Regions from separate parts of the Homo sapiens genome. Here all the other regions are linked to region 1. Evidence: fine-mapped expression QTL. A gene starts in region 1. Each other region holds a variant in brackets. All regions are shown on one strand. Distances are between the middles of the regions.

Region 1 (8,182 bases):
TGGGAATTATGATTTGAGATGAGATTTGGGTGGGGACACAGAGTCAAACCCTATCAGTGGGCTTCTTTACGAAAGATGAGGTTTCCTTGGGAAATAACTCTTGGCTCTCTGAGGGCTTGGCCACTCTGACTTTGATCAAACTGGCAACTGGGGTATGTACCTGAGTGAGGTCAGGGGGCCCATGATAACTCGGTGACTTGCTGCCCCTTGCTCACTCCAGTTGGCAATGTCGGGGCATTTGGTCCCTGCTGTGGGGGCTCCCATGTCTGTCTGGCCCTTGGCCTCTCCTCCCCTGGTGGCCAGCTCTGCTGTGATCAGCTGAGCCTGCTGCTGGAGCTATGTGCTGGTTTCCTGCCTCTTCTTGGGCATTCTGGGCTCTAGGAACTGTTTGTTGGTTTCCTGTGGGCCATTCCTTTCCAGGATGGGCCTAGAGGCTGCAACCCTCCTAAGATCTGCCCACACCCCTGTCCTGAGGTGAGCTTCTCAAGAAGGTCCCCGGCTGAGCAAGGGGTGTCAGGAGCAAGAATGGAGGCAGGAGAGTGTGTGCGCCTGCTTTTTAGAGTGGGAGTGTGCACTCATGCATGAGTGGGAGGCTGTCATTAACTTGGCCATGGATGGCTGCCATTTTAAGCAGAACCAGATTTGCTGGCATGAATTGTTTAAATGATGGCAGGCACAAGCACTGCAGGGAGATCCTCCTAGCCTAAATTAAAGAAGCCACAGAGGGAAAAAATCCCAGACCATCTTGCTCCACACCTCCCTCCCCCGTCCCAAGCCTTCCGTCATCTGCGGGAATTTCAGTGCCTCACTGACACCTGAATGACAATCTTTTGTCATCCTGGAAGGCACCATGATGGTACCAAAGGACAACTGGGGAGCATTGGTTCCCTCCCCAGCCCCAAACAAACACGTTCTTCATCAGCCTCCTTAAGCCATCCCAAACAACCCACACGCTTAATACAACTATCGTGCCTTCTATCCGGGCAAAGTGCCATGTGTCTGTAGACACAGCTACTCAGGAGGCTGAGACAGGAGGATCGCTCGAGCCCAGGAGTTTGAGGCTGTAGTGAGCTATGATAATGGCTGTAAATAGCCACTACACTCCAGCCTGGGCAACATTATTGAGACCATGTTTCTAAATAAGCAAACAAAAATTGTGCTTTCTCTGCAAACAGAGTGTCTAGGGAAGTGCTTTTTACTTTCTTGTGCATTAAGATCATCTGGGGACCTTGTTAAGCTGTAGATTCTGATTCAGGAGGTCTGGAGTGGGGCCCCAAGAACCTGTATTTATAACAAGCTCTCAGGTAAAGCCAATGCTGCTCTCAGGGAAACCACACTTTCAGAATGGAAGTTCCAGATAGCCCTCCTCTGCCTCTGACCAGCCAGCTATGTGCCTGCTAACGTCATTCTGCTGTCAGAGGGAGTGTGGGGTAGGAGAGCAGGGTGGTCTGAAGTCTTTCTCTCTCTCTTTCTCTCTCTCTCTCTCTCTCACACACACACACACACACACACACACACACACACACACACACACAGGGCTTCATCGGCTCAGAGAGTTGCAAACCCAGACCCATGTTCTAGGCTGGGCTCTGCCAGGAACTGCTAGGAGTCGCATCTCTCTCTGGACCTCAGTTTCTTCACGTGTATTTGTGTATTCTCTGGGGTGGAGCTGGCGAATAGCTGGAGACCCCTCTAGCCCTACCATTTTTTGATTCTAATTAACCAAAAAGGATATTCGAGGTCCCCGCTACAAATTCTGAACCCTTGGCTTCCCCTCCAAACTCCCACACAAACTCCACCCCATCCTGCCTGTGTGTCTTTGGGAGGATCATTTCCTTCTTTGGTCTTGGTGTCCTTGTTTACAGGTTGAGGGATGATAAGAGTCACCTGATCTGGGCAAGTCAGGCCATAAATAAGGCTTGTATGTAAAGGTGCCTAGCATAGTTCTTGGCAAAGCAAGGATCAGTCGATATGATTGCATTGGTTTGAGCATCTGGGAAGAATGAGCAGACTGCATACTGTGTGTTAGGGTGTAGGGAGGAATCAGACGTGACCCTGCCCTCTAGTCATCTGGGTGCACAGATTCTAGATTAAAGGATGTGGGGGTGGTAACTAACAAGGAGATGGAGAGGAGGTGTGCAGTTCCTGGGGGATCTGATGAAGAATTAAAGCAGAAGGGTAGGAGATGGAGAATGGGAAGGCATACCTGAAACCCTAAAGCAACTCTTGATGAGTAGGCATTGGCAGGAGGCCCCAGAACATTTTCTGACCCTCAAACACTGAGAATGCATGTCTGCTGGGGAATAGTAGTGAGGGGGCTAAGGGTATGGGGGTGTTCATGCCTGAGTCAGGGGCTCTGGATGGTAGAAATGTCTGGGAGTTCTGACGGAATGGGGGTGAGGAGGCCTAAAGATAACCTGTTCATAGTCTTTCAGGGCCTTAACCATTATGGCTGGGGAAGTGGGAAGTGCCGATGGGGTATGCAGAGGAGGGCAGCTGTGATAGTACATTTCATCCTGAAAGCACTACATGTGGATAATGACGGTAGTGATGATGCCCTAATTTTAGTGTCATGGCAACATTTTCCAAGGGGATGGAATTGGGTACCCTCATTAGTGTCATTTTTGTTTGAGAGATTTCAAGAGTCTATCTAGGTGTCATTTTAAAATCTATTGAAAAAAAATCTTGAATGCAGGTCACTGACCAGTTGGTTCCATGTAACTGCACTGCCTTCTGCTACCACTAAAGCAATGTTATGACAACCTGGACAAGTCATGGGAAACCTATGTGAGACTTAGTTTTTTCTTTTTCTTTTTGGAGTTGGGGGTCTCACTATGTTGCTCAGGCTGATCTAGAGCTCCTGGGCTCAGACAACCCTCCCGCCTCAGCATCCCCAAGTGCCGGGATTACCGATGTAAGCCACTACACCCAGCTGAGACTTAGTTTTTTCATCTGGAAATGAAGGCGACCTTTGTGATCCCAGTGGGCCCTTGCACTTGTGTATAAGGTGATTCCCAGCACTGCTCATGAAAGTAGTGATGGCAGAGTAGCCTCTGCTCTCCATTTTATTTTTGGGGTGGGGGGGGGCAGTGGTGGAGGGGAGGATGAGGATGATATTTCCATTAAATAAGTTTCCTTGTTGCTTTTCTTCAGGCACCACTGACCTCGATGGAAAAATGAAGTCCCTGGCCCAGGAAAGAGACCCAACTCTGTGGCTGTTTTGGATTAGTTTGTACAATGCCCTGCAGACCTACTCTCTCAGGAGGCTCCAAGTGACCAAATGTGACAAGAAAGTTTTTTGTCCAAGGCAGTTTGGAAGAGAAGTTGGTGACCGTCGGGATACCACAGCCGCCCCAGGACGGCCTGGTTGAGACATTCACTGGAGGGTCTGGGTGCAGCCCGCTGCCTGGCCGGTAGGCGGCGCGCACAGGCCGTGGGGCCCGGGTCTGGGCGTGCGCGCGGCTGGTAGCAGCGGGGCCGCGCACGCCAGGGTCCGGGAGCCGGGCCGGTGCCCCCGGAGCCATTTCCGGGAGGGGCGAGGCCGGCGGCTGCCGGGCCTCCAATCTCGGCGGCGGCGGCGGCAACAGGGGAGCCTGGGTCTCGCGGCCTGCGAGTCCGTCGCGTGCTGAGGGAGACGCAGGAGGTGGAGCCGGCCGGGTGCTCGAGGGAAGGAGACTGGAAGCTGGTTCCGGCGTGAGGAGGTGGAGGGGCCGCCGCGGGCTCCGGGGGGCGGTGAGGGTCGGGACGGAGGCGCCGCGGGGTGAGGAGAGGACAGGGGCCGGGTGGGCCGAGGGCGGGCAGAGGCGGCGGGGCGGCTGCGGCCGGGGCGGGGGCGGGGGCGGGCTGAAGGCGTGGGCACCAGCCGCTGAGGTCCAAGCAAGTGGACGGCGGGCGGGCGCGGGGCCGCGGTGGGGCGGGTCTGGAGCCCACGCCTGCCGCGGGGTAGGCATGGGCGGCCAGGATTTGCTGGTCCTCCGACGGGAGGGGTGACAACGAGAGCGAGGCCGTGCTGATTCTGAAGGGAGTGCGGAGGAGGCAGGACCCTGGTAGCCTCGGCACCTTCAGCCCGGGTTAGGTGGCCTGGGCTGGGCTCCCCACCCCGATCGCGCGCAGACGGGGCGTTTCCCCTAGTTTCCACCTGGGTGGAATGCTTTGTGGGAGTCTGGGTCTGGATTAGTTTCATCAGCTGTGGGAGGGAAACCTAGTTGCAGCAGGATTTTGATTCGCTGGTCTGGGGTGCTAGGGGTGGACTGTGATATCTGGGAATGAAATCTGAGCCTTCAAAGGAGGGAGAGAACCATAACTTGGCTGCTCTGGCGAATCTAGGCGGGCTGGCGAGACAGTTTAAAGCTCTAGAAGTAAACAAACCTGGTTCCCTTTTACAGAGTCTGAAAAAGGGGAGCGCGGAGAGGAGGCTGGAAGAGGAAGATGCCTAGCACAGACCTTCTGATGTTGGTGAGCCTTTTGCAGACATCCTCCTGGTTCCAAGGCATTTGTCTCCGTTTTTTTAGTCCAAAGGATCCCAGTGTGTAGATTTCACCTCTGATGCTTGCTTTTGGTAGCTGAGCGTTTTGCCACCTTTTATTTTGTTTTGTTTTGTTTTGTTTTTTTGGAGACGGAGTCTCACTCTGTTGCCCAGACTGGGGTGCAGTGGCATGATCTCGGCTCACCGCCACCTCTGCCTCCTGGGTTCAAGCGATTCTCCTGCCTCAGCCTCCTGAGTAGCTGGGATTACAGGCGCACGCCACCACGCCCGGCTAATTTTTGTATTTTTAGTAGAGACGGGGTTCTCCATGTTGGCCAGGCTGGCCTTGAACTCCTGACCTGTGGTGATCCACCCGCCTTGGCCTCCCGAAGTGCTGGGATTCCAGGCGTGAGCCACCGCGCCTGGCCAACCACCTTTTATTTTGGATGAATGATCAGGATGAATAAATAGCTGAATTAAATACATCAATACAGTATATGTAGAACTTAAATTATTGAAGAATCTTTTTCAAAATTATTATTATTTTTTTTAAATGAGACAAGGTCTTGCTATGTTCCTCAGACCGGAGTGCAGTGGCTATTTACAGGCATAATCATAGCTCACTGTAGCCTGGAACTCCCACTTCAAGTGATCCTCTTGCTTCAGCCTCTGGAGTAGCTAGGACTAGGAGCACAGGTCACCTCTCCTGGCTTTCTTTTTCATAATTCTTGCAGTTTTAATCCCTCCCTTCCCGTACTACCAGAGCAGTTTTGAAACCTCTATTATTACGTTTTATCAGGGTCTGCCATATACTAGTTTATCTGAGTGTTTGTCTTCCAGATTAGAGTTATGGTTCCTCGACAGGCAGATAATCATGTCTTCTTTGTTTAGAGATGAATAAACACCTAGCATGGTGCTCTGAATATAGTATGTGCTTAACAAATGCTTGTTGGATTGAACCAGTATGAATTTAAGTTCTTTTGTTGGACAGAGAGGTATGCCTGCTTTAGAGCTGTTTCCTCTCCTCCTGAGATCTTTCTGTGCTGTTTTACTGAGCAGGGAAGAATAGCGTTGCTAAATGCATGTTTACCAAAATGACATTTTATTTTTGGGACTTTTATGATTCCTTATGGACTTCTTAGTGTGAGAATTATGGAGAGTTTATAGCTTTGAAATGGTGGTATAGAAAAAGTGTCCGGGTTTAGTTTTTTTTGTTTCGTTTTGTTTTGTTTTGTTTGTTTGTTTTTGAGATGGAGTTTAGCTCTTGTCTCCCAGGCTGGAGTGCAATGGCACAATCTCAGCTCATTGCAACCTTTGCCTCCCGGGTTCAAGCGATTCTCCTGCCTCAGCCTCCCGGGTAGCTGGGATTATAGGTGCACACCACCATGCCTGGGTAATTTTTGTTTTTTAATAGAGATGGGGTTTCGCCGTGTTAGCCAGGCTGGTCTCAAACTCCTAACCTCAGGTGATCCACCTGCCTTGGTCTCCCAAAGTGCTGGGATTACTTACAGGCGTGAGCCGCCGTGTCCAGCCAAGTTTGTTTGTTTGTTTGTTTTTGTCACTTCTCTGAGTGCAAAATCAGTGCTTTAAAAACAATTCATTTCTCTCTCTTTATCTCACTATCCCAGAGGGTGGGTTGGCGTCACTGGGAAACTGGCAAAAACTGGTAGTGAGATTTCCTTATACTGGGTGCTGACATCGTAGTGGCATAACCTGTAAGGTCTGCAGGGGGGCTAAAGAAGAGAGAAACTAAGTTTTGATCCATTGTGATTTGAGGCAGGGATCTAGGATAATTTTAGGTTGTATGTGAGAGACATAGATGAATACTTAGGTTATCCGCAGATCCCAATGAAAAGTTCATCTAAAATAGTATCTTGCCCCAAATTTCATGGATTTTTCAGTTTTAATTAATACCCTTATATAACTTAAAATTCTTATTCAAAGACCATTATGTTAGAAATACTGGAAACTATAAGTAAGCAAAAGGAAAGGGGATTTGTTAATCTCCCCTATCTCCTACATCCCCTTCATTCGCCTCTACCCCGTGCAGTAATTTATCACCCAGAAATAACCGCTGTGAGCATCTTGGATGGTTAATGCAGAGTGACTTGTAGCAATTGACAGTTTCTGTTTATCCTCTTACAGAAGGATATGTTTATGTAAATTATAGGTTCTTATATGTAAGATATTTCCCCATGCACAGAGATATGGTTATTACTTATAGGGCCTATGCATTTACTTTAACAGAACAATGACTGCTTTTACTCGGAATATTAACTTTGGAATCAGTTTTCTTTTGAGGTATTTCTCTAGCTGTTGCCACCACCTTTCACCTCCTCACCTGTTAATTTAGAATGTTTAGGAGTGTTGCTTTGCTTGTTGCTGTAAGGAATTAATCCACATAGATGCGAGTGGCCCTAGGCAGTCATCACTTTCTGAAGACAACATACATGTTGCATGAAGTGCTTTCACTGGAAAAGTTGTCATTCATTCCTTGACTGTAATGTATAATGCTATTTGGAACTAACTGGTAAAGAACCAATAACCATGGCTGGGTTTTCAGTGGCACACTAACCCATCATTCTATGAGGTGTTTCTCAAGCTACTTTATATGATATGTAAAACATGTTCTTGGCCCTCCACCTGGGAAGAAAGGACCTAAGTGAATAAAAAAATAACCTCAGTGCAGTGCAGCATCTCAGAATTAGAAATAGTCTTAGAAGTCATGGGATGCAGCTTTTTTTTTTTTTTTTTTTTTGAGACAAGGTCTCACTCTGATGCCCAGGCTGGAGTGCAGTGGCATGATCTCAGCTTACTGCATCCTCAATCTCTGAGGCTCAGATGATCCTTCCACCTCAGCCTCCTGAGTAGCTGGGACGACAGGCACATGCCACCATGCCCGGCTGATTTTTGTATTTATTTTTTGTAGAGATGGTAGTTTGCCATGTTACCCAGGCTGGTATCTAACTCCTGGGCTCAAGGGATCCAACCGCCTGCCTTGGCCTCCCAAAGTGCTGGATTACAGGCATGAGCCACTGTACCTGGCCTGTGATGCAGCTTATATTATACATGAATCTGTTGAAGAGTATCTCTGGTAAATGGATATCCAGTCTCCCGTCTTTTCTGCTAATGGAATAAGTGAGCAAAAGCTAGGAAACAATACAAGGTGGATTCAGGAATAGTAATGTTAACTCTGATAGCTAACATTTATTGAGCATGTATTACATGTTAAGTGTAGGAATACTGTACTTATTTAATTTTCACAAAAACCTTTTGGTATCCTTCTTTTACAGATGAAAAACGAGGCTTATAGAGAGTAACTACAGCAGTTGAGTGGTGGAGCCAAGTTTGACCTCAGTTGGTCTGACTTCAGATCCCTCCCTCTTGCCTACTTTGTGTCCTTACCCCTGGTAAGGGTAGAGGTTGCTGACCATTGTGACTGATGGGAGAGGGTCTGTGTGGAGCAGATGGGATAGGATAGCTCCACCCTCTAGGGGGCACTTTGGCAATGGGGGACTGGGGGAGGAGGGAGTCTTTTTTCTTCTAGTGTAGTCTGAAAATACATGTTTTATTATTAAATTATTATTAAATCTTGTTTATTGGGTCAGGCGTGGTGGCTCATGCCTGTAATTCCAGCACTTTGGGAGGCTCAGGCGGGCAGAGTACTTGAGGCCAGGTGTTCTAGACCAGCCTGGTCAACATGGCGAAACTCTGTCT
Region 2 (8,182 bases), 35 kb after region 1:
AAGAATGTCTTCCCTCCAGAGATCAGGGATAATTTTGATAGAATATTCATTTTTTTTAGCACTTGCTCACTTGCCATGTGTTGCTGAACAATCAAGTTATTTTTAGTTACACTGCACTAAAGGAGTCTGAAGTCTGGACTAGTGATGAATTTTGCTGATCTTCCAACACTGAATCCCTCTTGAGGGAAGAGAGTATTTCTGGAACAAAGGATGGAGCCTGGGGTAGAGGAGAAGTGGGCAGCGGCATGAACTGTGCTGGGGTTAGCAGCCTCTTCCTTAATTCTGCCTCTGTGATTATCAGCTCACAGTTTATTACTTTTACTTTAATGCTGATTTTAACTGTGGGTTGTCCATAATTCATCAACAGAAATCAGCTTTATGTCATGGAGGAAATGATAAACTCTCAGTTTCTTGTTGTGTCACCTTGGGTGACACCCTTAAGCTCTCTTAGCCCATTTCCTTGCAATAAAATGGACATCATAATAGCTGCTTTACCTAGTCATGGGTAATATGAGGACTGAATGGCATCTTTTGCATGAGTGGAATTTGTAAACTGTTAAGAACCATGCATTGTTCTTACACTGGCATTTTCTATTTTGTTAAACTTAAAATTCTTTTTTTAAAGTAACAAATAAAAATTGTATGTTTATGATGTACAACATGAAGTTTTCAAATGTGTAAGTTGTGGAATGGCTCAATCAAACTAACGTGATTACCTCACGTACTTTTTTTTTTTTTTTTTTTTTTTTTTTTGAGATGGAGTTTTGCTCTGTCACCCAGGCTGGAGTGCAGTGGCACGATCTCGGCTCACTGCAACCTCCGCCTCCTGGGTTCAAGCGATTCACTTGCTTCAGCCTCCCGAGTAGCTGGGATTACAGGCGCGTGCCATCACGCCCAGCTAATTTTTGTATTTTTAGTAGAGACAGGGTTTCACCATGTTGGTCAGGCTGGTCTTGAACTCTGATCTCCTGATCCGCCTGCCTTGGCCTCCCAAAGTGCTGGGATAACAGGCGTGAACCACCACACCTGGCCTCATGTACCTTTTTTAATGGTGAGAACACTTAAAATCTACTTTCTTAGCAATCTTGACGTATGCAACACATTTTTATTTACTATGTCACCATGATCTCTTGAACTTATTGCTTCCGTCTAACTGGAATTTTCTATCCTTTTGACCATCTCCCAGTCTTCCTTCTTCCCCTTACTCTCAATCCCACTAAAAAATTCTAATTACTTTTCATTCTGTACCTTCTGGGGACTTTTGAGATAATCTTTTTAGGTCAGGGCCATGGGATCTTTTTATTTTTAGTTTCTTCATCTCTGATGCTGTATTCCGTTCTTTTTACCCTGTACCATTTTTTCTCACAACTTCCACAAAATTAGTTTATTCTTTTATCCTCCACCTAGTCACATTACTATACTTCTGGACAGCTGGTCCAGTTTGCTGATTTTTAGACTTCTTTTTACCTCATTAATTACTTCATCAAATAAGGAAGCATTTCTGAATCTGTACAGCTTTAACAGTTAGAAATAGTTGAATAACAAGAAGCTAAAATATCCAATATTAGATTATAGTCATTTGATGAACTATTATAACATTAAAAATATGTTTAGAAAGAATTGTTAATAATGTAGAAAGTGCTATCAGTGAGGAGGATACAGTTATTTTACATTATACAGAATCTCAGGTATGTATTACAGTGTGTAGAACATAGGGCTAGAAGGAAATACTCCAAAATTTAAACAAAAAGTAACCACAAACAAGTGGTTTCAGTCTCTTTGTCTTCTTATTCAGTCTGTGTCTTAGTTACCTGGTTTTGTCCCAGGTGTTTACAGAATGTGGACTCTAGGGAGAGTTAGAAAGAGAGGGATGCAGCTGAAGCAAAAACAGCTAGCAGAGATGCAAGGCATGATGTGATAGATACAAAAAGGGGGTGCAGACACATCCCGTGGTTGTTGAGTGAAGAGGGAGCTCCTTCTGGCCAGGAAAGTGGGAATTTCCAGATCTCCTAGGAATGCAGTAGAAGTTCATATTCAGTTCACACCTTGGATAAAAGCCAGGCTTAGATTCTTATAGACTCAAACAGAAAATTCCTGTGGTGCATTTGAAGCAGTATAGAATCCTGGGAATCCTGGACTGAAAATACAAAGACTTCAGTTAAATCTTTGCTCTATCACTGATTTTATCTGTGGCCTTGAGCAAGTTTTGATGCTTTGATCTTGCATTGCCTTTTATGTCACTCGTAGATGGTATATAATGCCTTCTGTGCCAGCCTCAGAATGCTGTTGTCAGAGTCAGTCGAGATACATTGATTGTGAATGCATCAGAAGGTCTATTAGTCTATTTAGATGCCATGTATTTATGATTATTATGATCGACAGGATTTGTATTCCCTATTTGTTCTATGTACTGCCTGACAGAGTGGACTCTGGCATCTGTGATTTTTCAAACTTTTTTTTCTTTTTGTTGAGACAGGGTCTCACTGTGTTGCCCAGGCTGGTCTCACCCTCCTGTGCTCAAGCAGTCCTCCCACCTCGGCCTCCCACAGTGCTGGGATTAGAGGTGTGAGCCACTGTGCCTGGCCAGCATCCACAATTTTGAGGGCATTTGTAGGTCCAGAAAATGTTAGAATCTGTGTTGGATGAGAGGCTGGACATAGATCCAAGAAAAACAAAACTAAAAACAGGCTGCCCATTAGTCTTGGGGGAAGGAAGAGAAATGTTGAACATCTAGAAACCTTAGGAAGGTCAAGAATTCTGGAACACGTATATCATTTGACCTAGTAGTTCTGCTTCTGGGAGTTTATCCTGTAGGTGTACTTGTAGTTTATCCTGTAGGTGTGCAGTATGGTGTGTGTTACAAGGTTATTTCAGCATGATTTGTAATAGCAAATATTAGAAGCAACCTATATATCCATCATTAAGGGGCAGGTTAAATAAATTTTGGCACATCCATAAAATGGAATACTCTGCAGCTATAAAAATGAATGAGGATGCACTGATCTTTAAGATAATACTCCTAAGTGGAAAAACAAGGTCTACTACAGTGCTAGAGTGTGCTACTTTTTGTGCAAAAAAAGGGAGACAAATAAGAATATAGCTTTACTGTTGCACGTGTATGCATAAGGAAACTCAGGGGGGTAGCATGAGGGTTGGGGGGATACGTTTGAGAGAGGGAAGCTTCACTGCTTTACTGTGTGTGTTATGTGTTTGTATTTTTAAAATTTTGAACCATGTAAATATAGTACTTATTCACAAACTTAAATTTAAAAGTTTTTTTAAAATTTTTTAAACGAAAGAAACTCTTTGCAATTGGAAGGCAAGTGAGGTGGAAGACACATTGAATGGTTGCTATATGCCAGGTCATATCCATGGAAATTTATTTGAATAAGAGAACCATTTGTTTCTTTTAGGTTTATGGTCAAGGTTTAAAAAGAAATGTTTTAAGCTCACCAGGAAGATGCCCATTATTGGTCGTAAGGTAAGTAGAATCTGTGTATGTCATTTTTTCCCCTCTTGATAATCATACCTCTTTCTTTCTATTTACTAAACCTAATATTCTCAAAGTGGAGGGGTGATTTTGTCTCTTACCTCCAGGGGACACTTGGCAGCATTTGGAGACATTTTTGGTGGTCACAGCTTGGATGGAGGGGTGCTCTTGGCATGTAATGGATCGTGTCCAGAAATGCTGCTAAACACTAAACATCCTACAGTGTACAGGGCAGCCCCCCCCCACCCACCAAACACAGAATTATCTGGCTGGAAATGTCAAAATGGCCAAGGTTGAGAACCCTGACTTAACCCTTTCTCCAATGTAACTGGCCAAAGGAGAGATGAGAAGCCTGTTAAGGAAGTAAGAATTTGAGAAAACCTGACTGTATTGTTAGGTGCTTTGGAACAACATGCAGCTGGCTGACTTTAGGTATTTATCTAGGAGTTGGGTGCTTACATGGTTTAGGTCAGGGGTCGGCAAATGTTTTCTATAAAGGGCTAGATATGAAACATTTTGGGCTCTGTAGGCCATATCATTTCTGTTGCAACTCCTCACCTCTGCCCTTGCAGAGGGACAGCAGCAAGAGGTTCAGGAATGAGCCTGGCTATATTCCAGTGAAACTTTCTTTACGAATTCAGGTAGGCCTTTGTTGGTTCCTGGCTGTAGTTTGCTGATCCCAAGTTGCACAGCGCTGTCTCTTGCTGTTTGCAATTTTCTGTATTGTAGTATGTCCCCTTTGTTATGTCCTCTTGGCCCTCATCCATGTTGAGGATAAGGTAGTCACCTCTGTGCGTCTCCCACAGGTTATCCCAGATGAAGATAAACAGGGCAGGCCACTTGGCAAGCTCTAAGGAAGGCATATGAGTCCTTGGAATCTTCATCTCCTCCAGTGCCCTCCCCTGACCCCCCTTTGGTCTTTCCCAACTTTACCTGCCTTTAAGTTTTCTTCTACTTTTGGCTTTCAGTTCCCTTTCCTGGCTATACCAGGGTTTGTTTGCCAACCCCTGACCTAAAGTTGGCCAGTTATCTTTAACCTTTGGCTGAAATCCATTCAGATCGCTGTGCTAACTCTCCCAGAGATAGGTATCTTCAGGTTCATTTCCTGTAGGAGAGTGGGAGCAATAACAGGTGGTGAAGGGAAATGTGAGCA[T/C]ATAGGCTTCTGTTTGCTCTCCAAATTATATTAATCCCTAAAAGTAAATCTAGTCCTTACAGAGTATAAGGGGTGGGGACAGGGAAGGTATTGTAGAAGATGGACTGTAGCACAAAGGAGATTAGGATTTCCCCTTATCTCCTGAATTTTTTTTTCTTCTTTTCGTTCAGTTTTCAGACTTTGAGACAAATAAATGCTAGGGTTCCAGAACCCACTCTTAAACTTAGAAAGTAACAGAATTGGAAGATCCTTAGCTTGCCAAGGACTATCCAATCACTCTCCATTTTTCAGAAACAGATTCTGAGGCTTAGATACAAAAAATTACATGTGTGTATGTGTGTGTGTGTGTGTGTGTGCGCGCGCACGCGTGTGTGTATACCTCTGTCATTTATTCACTTAACACATGCTTATTGAGCCACCTGCTCAGTGTCAAGTACTTTTCTGGGTGCTGGGGATATGGTGGTGAACAAGACCAAATCCTTCCTCTCATGGAACTTACATTTTAATAGGAAAGACAGAAAATAAAGAAGTAAACAAATATGTGGAATTTTATTTTGAAATAAATGCTTTGAAGAAATTAAAATTGGGTAACGTAATACAGGCTTTGAGGCAAGAATTGGGGGTAAGGAAGTACTTGTGCTTTCTAATATACCTCTCTGTCACTTTTTGTCTGTTTTATGGCAATAGCATACTCTATGTATGGAAGCTCAGCTTTCATAGCCTGTTCTGTTGCATGAGTCGCCATTTATGTGAATTAATTTTTTAATTTACAACTTAAAAAATGTCTTCACATCCATAGCATGCCCAGGCATTGCCCAGGAGTGTAGCCTCTGCTCCCTGCCAGTGTGGGCCTCTTAGACTATTGCAGACATGCTCGAAAGGAGTGGCTTTCCCTGTGGTTTCACTGAGGGCCATATCTAAGAAGATCTTCTTGTATTCTAATTATCCTTGGCTAGAGATGAGAAAATCTTAGTGTGGAGTGAGTTCTGGCGTTCTTTAACAAATATATTGCTGAAACAATAGCACTGTGACAAATCGTGACATGTAGCTTCTCTCCCCAAACCTACTACCCAAGAGCCTTTTGCTATAAGCAGCAGCCCCTGCCCTTCTGCCTCCTTACTCTGCTATTTTTTTTCCCTCAGCACTTTTTGTTACCTGTCTTACTATTTTCTGTCTCTCCTGCTGAAAATAAACTTCATGAGGACAGGAGGTTTTTTTTCCTGTGTGCTCCATTGCCTAAGTTTGTTTTGTTCACTATGTGTCCCTGGCCTGCATATTTGTGAATATGCAGTGAATATGAATGTGAATATGTAAGTGAATAAAAGAAAACAGCTCAGAAGCTGTGGCTTTGAGGATGGAAAAGAAGGGAACCATAGTTGATAAACTACCTAGCAGAAAGGACCTTAGTTCCTTTTAATATTTTGGGGTCAGACAGTGCAAGCTGTCGACAGCAGCTTAAGGAGATACATTAGAGTCTTCCTGGCAGTTCTTAGAATGCCTTGTGCTAGTGTTGAATGGGACCTCCAAATTCCTAGTGTGCTGCGTGTATGTCTGTTGAAGGAGCTCATCACTTGCACAAGGACCAGAATCACTTTTACTGCAGCATGGCCAGTTTTCTGGCCACTGTTCCTAGTTATACCTTTGATTCTTTTACACACACACTGTAGCTGCTGCCAAGGCAGGATCAAAGTCCAAATACTGCCCTCAAGGATGTGCTGACTTTAGCAATGCCAACCAAGTGAAGCAGCAGTGATGTCAATGTGGCAGAGAAAAGGGTTATGGGGAAATTGGGTGCAACTTTTTTTTTTTTTTTTTTGAGACAGAGTCTTGCTCTGTTGCCCAGGCTGAATGGAGTACAGTGGTGTGATCTTGGCTCACTGCAACCTCCACCTCCTGGGTTCAAGTGATTCTCATGCCTCAGCCTCCCAAGTAGCTGGGATTACAAATGCCTGCTACCATGCCTGGCTAATTTTTGTATTTTTAGTAGAGATGGGGTTTCACCATGTTGGCCAGGCTGGTCTCGAACTCCTGACCTGTAATGATCTGCCCACCTCGGCTTCCTGAAGAGCTGTGATAATAGGTGTAAGCCACCGCGACCGGCTGAGTGCATCTTGACCTTTAGAGAGAAGCTTCGCTTTTCAAATTTTTAAGAGGCTATTGTACATGCCAGAAAGTAGCTGATCAGTCAGAATATCACCATATATCTTTAGGAAAAATGTTAGTTTAGTTACTTGTGCGGTGCCTAGCATTGAGCAGTTGCTTGACTGTCATAATAATTCTGCTGTCTCTACTGTACTCTTGCATCTGGATAACTTTGTCTTTCTTACCTTTGGAGATTCAAGACAAGTTGAACAAGACCAAGGATGATATTAGCAAGAACATGTCATTCCTGAAAGTGGACAAAGAGTATGTGAAAGCTTTACCCTCCCAGGGTCTGAGCTCATCTGCTGTTTTGGAGAAACTTAAGGAGTACAGCTCTATGGGTATGATGCTTGGCATATACATGCTCTCTACTTCCTTAAAGAGACAGGTTTTGTCATTGTTTAATGTTCACATAGGTTAAGAATAACTCATCATTGGTTAATACATGTTTAGGAGGGCCTACTCTCTGTTTCACAGGTTGAATTTCCTATTTTTAAAATTATGTTTAGATTCATCCTTCATCCATAAAGCAAGCAAATCTCAGAGACAGTGGAACTTGGCTTTTATTTCCTTTTGTAAGCATGAATAAAACAAATATATTTGTGTTTAAGAAGAGAGAATATAAGATATGTAATACAAATGAAATACAGATCCATGTAAAAATGTGAAATCTGCATAAAGGCACAAAAGAAAATAAGTCACTATAATTCCACTATCAAAGATAAACAGATGGTGTCTATCTTTATGCATGTAGCTATAGGTAGAGCTGTCTATATAGTTTACATCTATCTATATATGTATATCTGTCTGTTTCTGAGAATGCTAATAGTGTTTGTCTGTGTGTATACACATGTATGCATGAGCACATATGGGATGGATAAATAGACCAAATAGCTTGGTGCTTAAGAGCGTAACCCTGGAACCAGCCTGGATTCATACCTTGGTTTGCCACTTAAAGTATGCCTTTGGCGAGTTACTTCTGTATGTCACAGTTCCTGTATCTCTACAATGGGGATAGTAATAGTAGTACAGTACTTACCTGAAAAGATGATTATGGGGATTAAATGAGATCATACATGTATAAATGTTTTATAGTGCCTGGCATATAGTAAGGATTCAGTAAATGTTAAACATTATTGCTATTATTAACTCAAACAGATTTATGTTTGTTACTGATTAAGATCATATTACAAGTACTTTTTAAAAAGAAGCTTTTTAGTTTGATATATTTACAGAAAAGTAGCAAAGATGATAGAGATTTCCCTATACCCAGCTTCTCCTGATGTTAACATCCTCTATAACCATGGTACGTTTATCAAAACTAAAAAATTAACATTGGTACAGTGCTATTAACTACACTACAAATTCTATTTCTAGTTCATCAGGGTTTTTTTTTG
Region 3 (8,182 bases), 91 kb after region 1:
GATTGGGCGGGGGGGATGACCCGGATGGGCACCCGGGCAGAGAAGGTGGCTGAGCAAAGGCCAGCCAGTCTGCGAGGTTGTGGCGTGCTCCTCTAAGTGAAGACCTGAGAGCACTGAAGAGGTTGGAGAGGCTCATGGCGACAGGCTCTGCATGGTTCTGTGTAGGTTCCCCTGGGGAGCCCAGTTCCCAGCTCTGCTCCATGAAGGAAGTAGACTTGGACTTGGCCCAACTTGCTTTCCGCCTTCCCTGCAACACTTCTGTCCACCAGAAGGGGGCAGGGCCACCTCAGGAAACGAGACCCATTCTGTGGGGGGCTCAGTCAAGGTTCAGTCCTGAGTTAGGTGAGACCTTTCAATCCTCAGTGGACAGGTACTGAGCTTCAGGCCCCGTGCTGGGACCTGGGTGCACTAAGACGAGCCCCACCCCTTGCAGCCTGTGTCCGCAGTGTCCCAGGCCGAAGGGATTGTGGGGGTTTCAAGGAGGCAGTGGGCAGCTCTGCCTAGGGGGAGGCCGGAGGAAAATGAGGACCAGCTCCCTAGAGGAGGCAACTCTTAAGCTGAAGCAAGAGAAGAAGTTGCCTTCTCGGCTGACAGGGTTGTGAGGTGTGCCACTCTGAGGGGGCACAGCAAGCGGCATGGAGGTGTGACCGCGGGCATGTCTGGTTGCTGGCTATGTCCTGGATCCTAGAGCACAGGGTGCAAGGGGCTGGGGTGACTGGCCATGGCTCGTGGGGGGCCCTGGAGCCACATGCATGAACTCCATTCTGGTGCAGCAGGGAGAACAGACAGAATTTCCTTTTTAAAAAACAAAAAAAAAATTTCTTATGAAAACTATCAAATAGGCACCAAGTACAGAGAAGAGTTCATGGACCCCCATGTACCCAGCACCTGGCACCAACAGAGATCTACCAGCTTCTCATCCATTCTCCCTCCACATTTGTACAAACCTTTTATAGATAGAAATTGTTAAACATACCAAAGAAGGGAGACTGGCATAACGATCCCCACAGACGCACCAGCCAGCTCCACCAGGAAGTTTCCAGGCTGGTCTCGGCCGCCCACTCCTTCCCACCCTCAGATTATTCTGAAGCAAATCACATAGCATTTTATATTTAAATATTTCAGTGTATATCTCTAAAAATGAGAGACTCTTTAAAAACACAGGCTTGCACTACTATGATAACACCTGAACAATGTGCACACCATTGTTTTTTCTTGTTTTTTTTTTTTGAGATGGAGTCTCTCTCTGTCACCCAGGCTGGAGTGCAGTGGCACAATATCGGCTCACTGCAAGCTCCACCTCCCAGGTTCACGCCTCACGAGTAGCTGGGACTACAGGCACCTGCTACTACCCCCGGCTAATTTTTTGTATTTTTAGTACAGACGGGGTTTCACCACGTTAGCCAGGATGGTCTTGATCTCCTGACCTCGTGATCCTCCCGCCTCGGCCTCCCAAAGTGCTGGGATTACAGGCGTGAGCCACCGCGCCCAGCCTATGCATGTCATTCTTTCACTTCATGCCATACCAGGACTGACAGATTTCAAGCCCAGGAATGGCCAGGTTCAGATTGGCATTGCAGGAGGGTTGCCCTGGCAGGGAGTGGAGGAGGAAGCTGGGGGAGAAGGGGTGAGGCAGGGCGTCAGCAGGAAACTTTGATGAGGGTCTGGGGGAGAAGCAGTGGGGACGTGGACTTAGCTAAGCCTGAGCTGTGGAGGGAGGAGGTGTGGAAAGCTTACCAAGTGCCAGACACTCTGCACACAGTCTTAATTAATCCTCACAAATGCCCCACGAAGGCGATTCTATTATCTCCCCCTTTTACAGACAAAGAGACTATGGCTCAGAGAGACTAAATCGCTCAGAGTGACATAGCAGAAATAACAGAGCAAAGTTGCAGCACTGGGCTTCAAACAGGCTGGGTGGTCCCGCAGCTCCGAAGCACGGCCTCCTGCAGCCTGGGGGCCACAGAATGGGAGAAGACACCTGTGCAGAGCTGGTACGGAGGCAGTGCCCACAGAACTTGGCACCTGCTTCGACGTGAGGGCTGAGGTGGGGGAGCTCCACCCTCGGCTGCAGCCCTGTGGAGCCCGGGAGCAGGTTTCCGAGAGGCAGCCTTGGGATCGCCCTCCCCGCCTCAGCCACTTCCCTCATCTTTCTTGAGAATCAAGCACGTCTTCCTCTCCAGCTCCTGCCCCCTGAATAGTTCCATTAGTCTCCAGCCCTGCCCGCCTTCCACCTCCCCTCCACTCCCGGCAGGCCTGTTCATCTTTACTGGGGCCTGGGAGGAGCAGCCTTTCCCACCTGAGCCTCCCAAGGCCTGGGCACCCCGGGTGGGAGCTCTGGCCCCTGTGGCTTTGAAGGAAGATGGACACGGCCTAATTGGTCTCTCTTTGTGGCCCAGTGGCCCCCGAAGAGGCCCAGCAATCAATGCTTCTCAATGTCGGAATCAGATTCCTGTACACCGCAAACCAGCCCGAACTGCAAGGGCTGCCCCTGTGGGAGCCACAGGGAATCATAGCCACCCGGGGGCCAGAAGGCCCACTAGGGAGATTCGCTTATTCTCTAGAGGAGGAGACAGACAGCCAGAGAGTGAAGGACTTGCCCAAGGTCACTGCCAGCTGGGGGTGAGGTGGGCCAGGGCTGGAGTCTGCTGCTGTCCTCTTCCTGCATCCTGCCCGCCTGGGCCCCTCACTCCGCAGTAAGCACTGAGACAAATGAGGGCTGGACGGGGCTCCCTGGCCCAAGATGCCTAGAGGGGCTCTGGTGGTTTGGACTCTGCTGGCAGACCCTGACTCTCGGAGATCTCAGCTACCTCAGAGCCAGAGGGCACTTTAGATCTCACCGTGTCCAGCCCCATCCTCACATGACAGTGGAAGGGGTGGGAGCACAGAGAGAGGAGGGGTCTGCTGTGTCCATGAACCCACCGAGATTTCCTGTCCATGGGGACCATCCTGTTTCTTCTTACTCTCCTCCTTTCCAACCACCTGTGGGCCAAGGGAGAGAGATGGCCACCGTGGCTGCCCCAGCCTGGGATCCCAGAGGACAGTGGCCTTGGCTCTGCCCCATCCCCATTTCCCTGCAGGCAGGTGTAACAGGACAAAGTCTCCCTCCTCCTGTTAGGTACTGGGCTCACCTCAGTGCTCCTTCTGGAGCCTCTCCAACTCAGCTTTGGGGTGGTTGGGGGTAGCTGCTGCCCTGGTTAGAGCACTGGATGGGGAGTCCAGAGACCTGGATTTGAGTCCTCAATCTGCTCATTGCTGTGTGATCTTCGGTAAGTCACTTCACTTCTCTGAGCCTGCACAGTGGTGATAATTCCAACAGCCCTGCCTCATCAAATGGAGTCAAACCTGGATAAAAACCCTGGACAAGTGTAAGGGTGGGCCTGTCCTGAGATGGCCAGAGAGAATGTCCAGAAGGTGGTCCTTCCTGGGCCCCAGAATACTAATTCCAGTTATGTTGCTGATCTGCTGTGTAGCCCTGGGCAGATGGCCAACCCTCTCTGGGCCTCATAAAAACATGGAGATAAATGCTTCTCTCTGCTGTGGTATC[G/A]ACCTCCTGGCAACAAGGGGAAGTTAAATGTGGAAGAGCTTTAAGAACCTTAGAAGAAAGGCCATCTATAAACATAAGAGATTATTAACACCATCCAATAATCATGCTGTCTGCTGACAAAAGTAATGACCCCCCGAAGCTGGGCATGGAGAGCAGCCATGTCAGCACACGGCGGCTCCAAGCAGGGCTTCCTCTTAGCTCATAACGCTCTGTGTATGTTTATGTGGGGTTTTGCCTCTACAAACCAACCACGAATTAGTTCTTCCGTGGATGTGCCCAGAAGGGAGGCAGGAAGGGCAGGGGATGATGAGAGCTGGAGCCCCAGGAAGGAGGTGTCTAGCCTGGACACCCAGCCAGGTAAGGATGGGTGCGGCTGGGAACCAAAGGTTCTCCTGGTTCTCAGTGCCCACTTCTGCTGCTCGCTGTCCTGAGCACCTGGGCAGATAGCGTTCCCTCTCTGGGCCTCAGTTACCCCACCAGGGCTGTCAGTGCAGGAAGGTGGGGAGGCATTACGGGATGTGTGACTTCAAATCACCTTCTGACTTGCCCACTCCCCCTTTCTTCTCTGTCCTGCTGGAAGCTTGGTGTCGGCACAGGGAGGTGCCCATTGTACTTTAACCCCAAGCCTGGGGAATCCCACGGTGGGTCGTCTCTGTGGCCACAACCTCTTGGCGGTGCCCAGGAGTCAGTAGCATGTCGTGGACTCTCTGAGCCTCTATTTCTCATCTGTCCCCACCCTGCCAGGTGGGAGTGCCCAGATCCTGGGTGCAGGGAGCCAGCCATGTGCGGCCTTGGGTGGGGTTATTATTCTGCAGCCCTTCCACAGGGCCCAGGCTGAGCTGCGGGATGATCCTCAGCCCAGCAGGCCGACCCATGGGTGGCAGGGAGGCTGTCTGGGTGGGAGAGAGGCTGTGCCTTGCCGCTGTCATTTTTTATCCTCGCCGAGGCCTGCAGGGCCTTTCCCCCATCCCCGGCTCCGCTGCCTTTTCTCTCTTTAGACAACTGCCCTCATTCTGTCTCCCGCTCGCCACACTGCCTATTTTTAACTTTTGGCTTTGGGGGAGGTGGAGGAAGGGAGGTCGGTTGGTGTTTTTTTCCTCTGTCCTCCTCCCTGGTCTCATGTCCTTTCTGGGTCCTCCTCTGGGGGTCTTCCTCGCCATCTGACCTCCCCAGGCTCCTCACAGCCCTTCTGTCCTGCCTGCCTCCTTGCCTGCTCCTCTCCTCCTCTCTCTGCCTCTGGACTCTTCTGCCCAGGCCCCTCATCTGCTTCTGTTTCTGCTGCCTCTCCCAGGGGACCCTCGCAGGCCCCATCCCTGTCCCCATGGCTTCTCTTCAGTGGCAGCAGTGGCAGCAGTTGGTCGGAGCACTTGCTCTTGCCACAATCCCTCCTGACAGCTAGTGGTGGCTGACACAGGTGACCTCTCCCTTTTTCTGGAAACCTGACCTTTTCCTGGAGTTCACACCCTGCCAGGCGTGCGTTTGTGGGGGACACTCCCTTCCCCCATTAACGCTGGTGCTGGCTGGTGAAGTGGGCAGCTGTGGGGGTGCCTGCCCAGCATGCTTCCACCTTCTTTGACTGCCAACACCTAGATTTTCCTCGGACTCCCTCCCCACCCACTCGCCCCATTGTTTGGGTGGGGCTGATCCACCTCCTGGCTTCAGAGATGTCCTGTGTCCAGGCCTGGCCAGGGTGAGCCCAGCCTAGGTTTCTGCCAGATAGGAAAAGGGGTCTTTCCTCTTGCTTATGTGGTGAGACGTCAGCTTGGAGCTGCCTGGGTGTCTTGGCCACTGCAGGGAGAGACTGCCTGAGGAAGAGGCTAACAGGGAGGAGAGCGGAGCTGAGTGACGGAAGGAGAAGGAGAGACTCCCAAGCTCTCAACTGAGCACTTGGACCCAGCGTTCCCTGATTTTGATGTTTCGGTTCCATGAGCTGAGGTTTTTTTCCCTTCAGCCATTTGGAGTTTGTTATTTGACACTGAAAGAGTCCTGGCTGTTCTGCTGGGATGCCGTCTGCCCTCTTCCCAGTCCACCGTCTGCCCCGCCGCCCTGCCCCACTCTATGGCTTCCCCTGTCCTATGGCTGGTCATAGTCCTAAGTTCCCAGCCCAGAACGTGCTCCTGGACTTCAGGCCTGTGCTATCAGCTGCCCCTAGACACTTTTGATGGGATGCCTTGTGGGGGCACTCAAAATGCAACATGTCCCAAACAAAACTCATTCTCTGTCCTTTGTCTTCTAAGGTTTTCTAATTGGCGATGAATGCTTCCTTCATTCCACCCATCTTTCCATCCATCTTCCTTCCTTCCTTCCTTCTTCCTTCCTTCCTTCTTCCTTCCTTCCTTCCTTCCATCGTTACATCCACCATAGTGTAATGTTCCATCCATCCATCCATCCATCCATCCATCCATCCATCCACACACTCACTTACCCATTCATTTCACCTCCTTCTCCTCATGACAACAATGATGATAATAATAACCTATGTTTATTGAGGGCTTTCATGGTGCTAGATACTGTTCTAATCAATTTACACATACACATTTAACCCTTTACACATACACATTTAACCCACATTACACCCACATTACACGTACACATTTAACCCTCAAAACCAACCTGTGCAATAGGTAGTATTACTGACTTAGAGGTGAGGAGCCTGAGACACAGCAGGGTTAAGTAGCTTAGTGTCACTAAGTGCACAGCCAGGGTTCCTCGTTGCTGAAGCCGGAGACTTGGGAATTGTCCTCATGTCACCCCATCATCCTGAACATTTGGTCATCACATCCTGCCAACTCTGCCTCCAAAGCTCCTCTCAGACTAGCCTGTTTCTCTCAAATGACCTACCTCAGGGCACCCCCATGTCTTTCTGAGATCACAGTCCCAGCCTCTAGGCTCCCATCCCCCTCCACTACCCCATCGCTTCTCAGCCAGGCCCACCCTGCTGGGTACCCTCCATGAGAGCCCATGGCACAGGCAGGTGGGCCTTGCTGAGAATGCATCTGCTGCAGGGCCGAGGCCACATCTGGGCTTTCACCGTCACATCCCCTGAGCTCCAATCAGTCCCTGGCTCAGGCCAGGCACTTAACAAATGTTGTTAAGTGAAATGAGGCATGGACGGCAGCTTGGGAACCACCCAAGGGTCCTGAGCACACGTGGAGTTGGCCGCTGGCTTCCAGGACAACATGCCCCCAGTGTACACTGAAGGCCTCAGTCACAGGTTCTCGCCTCCTTCCATCCCTTCCATTCTGGGATGGCTCCAGCCACCTCAGCAGATGTTCTTGCTGATGGGTGAGGGCTATGTCAGGAACAGCTGAATGTCTGCGGCCGTTGTTCAGCTAAACACCTCTGTCCACCCACCTCCAGACAGTCTCAATCCCTCCACCCCCACTCCCTCTTTGATGACTTATGGGCGGAGAACATCCAGAGCTGGGTGGGGACAGGGGGACTCTGTGCTCCTGCTGCTACCCCTCACCTCAGGTGGGTGTTACCTGTGTTAGGCCGTTTTGTTTTCTATAAAGAAATGCCTGAGACTAGATAATTTATAAAGAAAAGAGGTTTAATTGGCTCACGGTTCTGCAGGCTGTACAGGATGCATGGTGCAGGCATCTGCTCCTGGTGAGGCCTCAGGAAGCTTCCAGTCATGATGGCAGGCAAAGGGGGAGTAGGCGCATCATAGGGTGAGAGCAGGAGCGAGAGAGAGGGGAGGTCCCAGACTCTTAAACAACCAGGCTCAGGTGAACTCACTGAGCAAGAGCTCGCTCATCACCAAGGGGATGGCACTAAGCCATTCATGAGGGGTCTGCCTCCATGATCCAAGCACTTCCCACCAGACCCCACTTCCCACACTGGGAATCAAATTTCCAGTGAGATTTAGAGGGACCCAACATCCAGACAGTGCCACTCCCTAAGGAGGGAGCCATCAGCAGATGTGGCGCAGGAGGCTGAGGCTGGGGAGATCTGGGCTGACCAGAGACCCTGAGTGGGCTACTGCTTGCGGTCCACTGCGGTGAGTCTCGGGGCTCCTTCTGGGGTCTGCAGGATGGTGTGCCTGAGGCTAGGGGCAGGTCCGGGAACCCCATGTCCTCTTCAAGGCCAGGCCACCCAGCCCTTCAGCAACACTGCCTTGGGGCCTGTCCCTGGAGAGGAGATGAGGCTGCTGAGCTGTGCCAGGGCTGCCTCAGCGGGGCTAAGTGTGTTGGAGGAGGCTCACATTCCTGGGTGTGCTCCCACAGCATGTGGGGTAGACCTGTTCAACCTGGAAGGACTCTGGCCCCAAGAGGTCAGAGTGGCTGCCGCAGAAGGACACCTCTCAGGCCTCCCTTCAGGAGAAGCTACCCCAAGGGACGTGACTGACCATCCCAGCTGCCGCACCTGCAGGCGCCGCTGTGGTACTCACTCCCAACACTTCCTCTCCCCGGACTGCCCCTGCTGGAGGCTGAGCCAGCGAGGTCATTTGCAGATGTGGGACTCCTCCGGGGGGAGTCTTTGCCTGGGTCTCTGCCTCACCTGGCTGAGGCATCCCTAGAGCGGTGCTGGCTGAGGCTCTTCCAATTCCCTTTCTGCCCCCATCCTTGCAGCTGTGACAGCTGGATGCCAGGGTCCGAAGGCTCTCCTGCCTATTCCTGCTCTGTACCCCCT

What was found. PIP is the estimated chance that this variant, and not a neighbour inherited with it, causes the effect. A credible set is the group of variants that fine-mapping cannot tell apart.
Region 2: its variant is the best candidate, but not a certain one, in a credible set for the expression of SGPL1 in whole blood (TOPMed, PIP 0.54).
Region 3: its variant is the best candidate, but not a certain one, in a credible set for the expression of SGPL1 in whole blood (INTERVAL, PIP 0.76).

What each region holds. Positions count from the first base shown.
Region 1 is chr10:70,812,426-70,820,607 of GRCh38, forward strand. It overlaps SGPL1 (sphingosine-1-phosphate lyase 1), which reads left to right and starts at 3,523. Exons shown (of 15, transcript NM_003901.4): 1 at 3,523-3,701; 2 at 4,386-4,455. The coding sequence starts at 4,429. RefSeq lists silencers at 3,319-3,638, 3,659-3,748, 3,829-3,938.
Region 2 is chr10:70,847,730-70,855,911 of GRCh38, forward strand. SGPL1 (sphingosine-1-phosphate lyase 1) reads left to right here. Exons shown (of 15, transcript NM_003901.4): 4 at 3,414-3,481; 5 at 6,979-7,126. Among named protein-coding and RNA genes, the nearest start is that of SGPL1, 36 kb to the left of the region's middle. The variant T/C (reference allele first, on the strand shown) is at 4,644.
Region 3 is chr10:70,903,221-70,911,402 of GRCh38, forward strand. No RefSeq gene overlaps it. Among named protein-coding and RNA genes, the nearest start is that of PCBD1, 19 kb to the left of the region's middle. RefSeq lists an enhancer at 394-942. The variant G/A (reference allele first, on the strand shown) is at 3,548.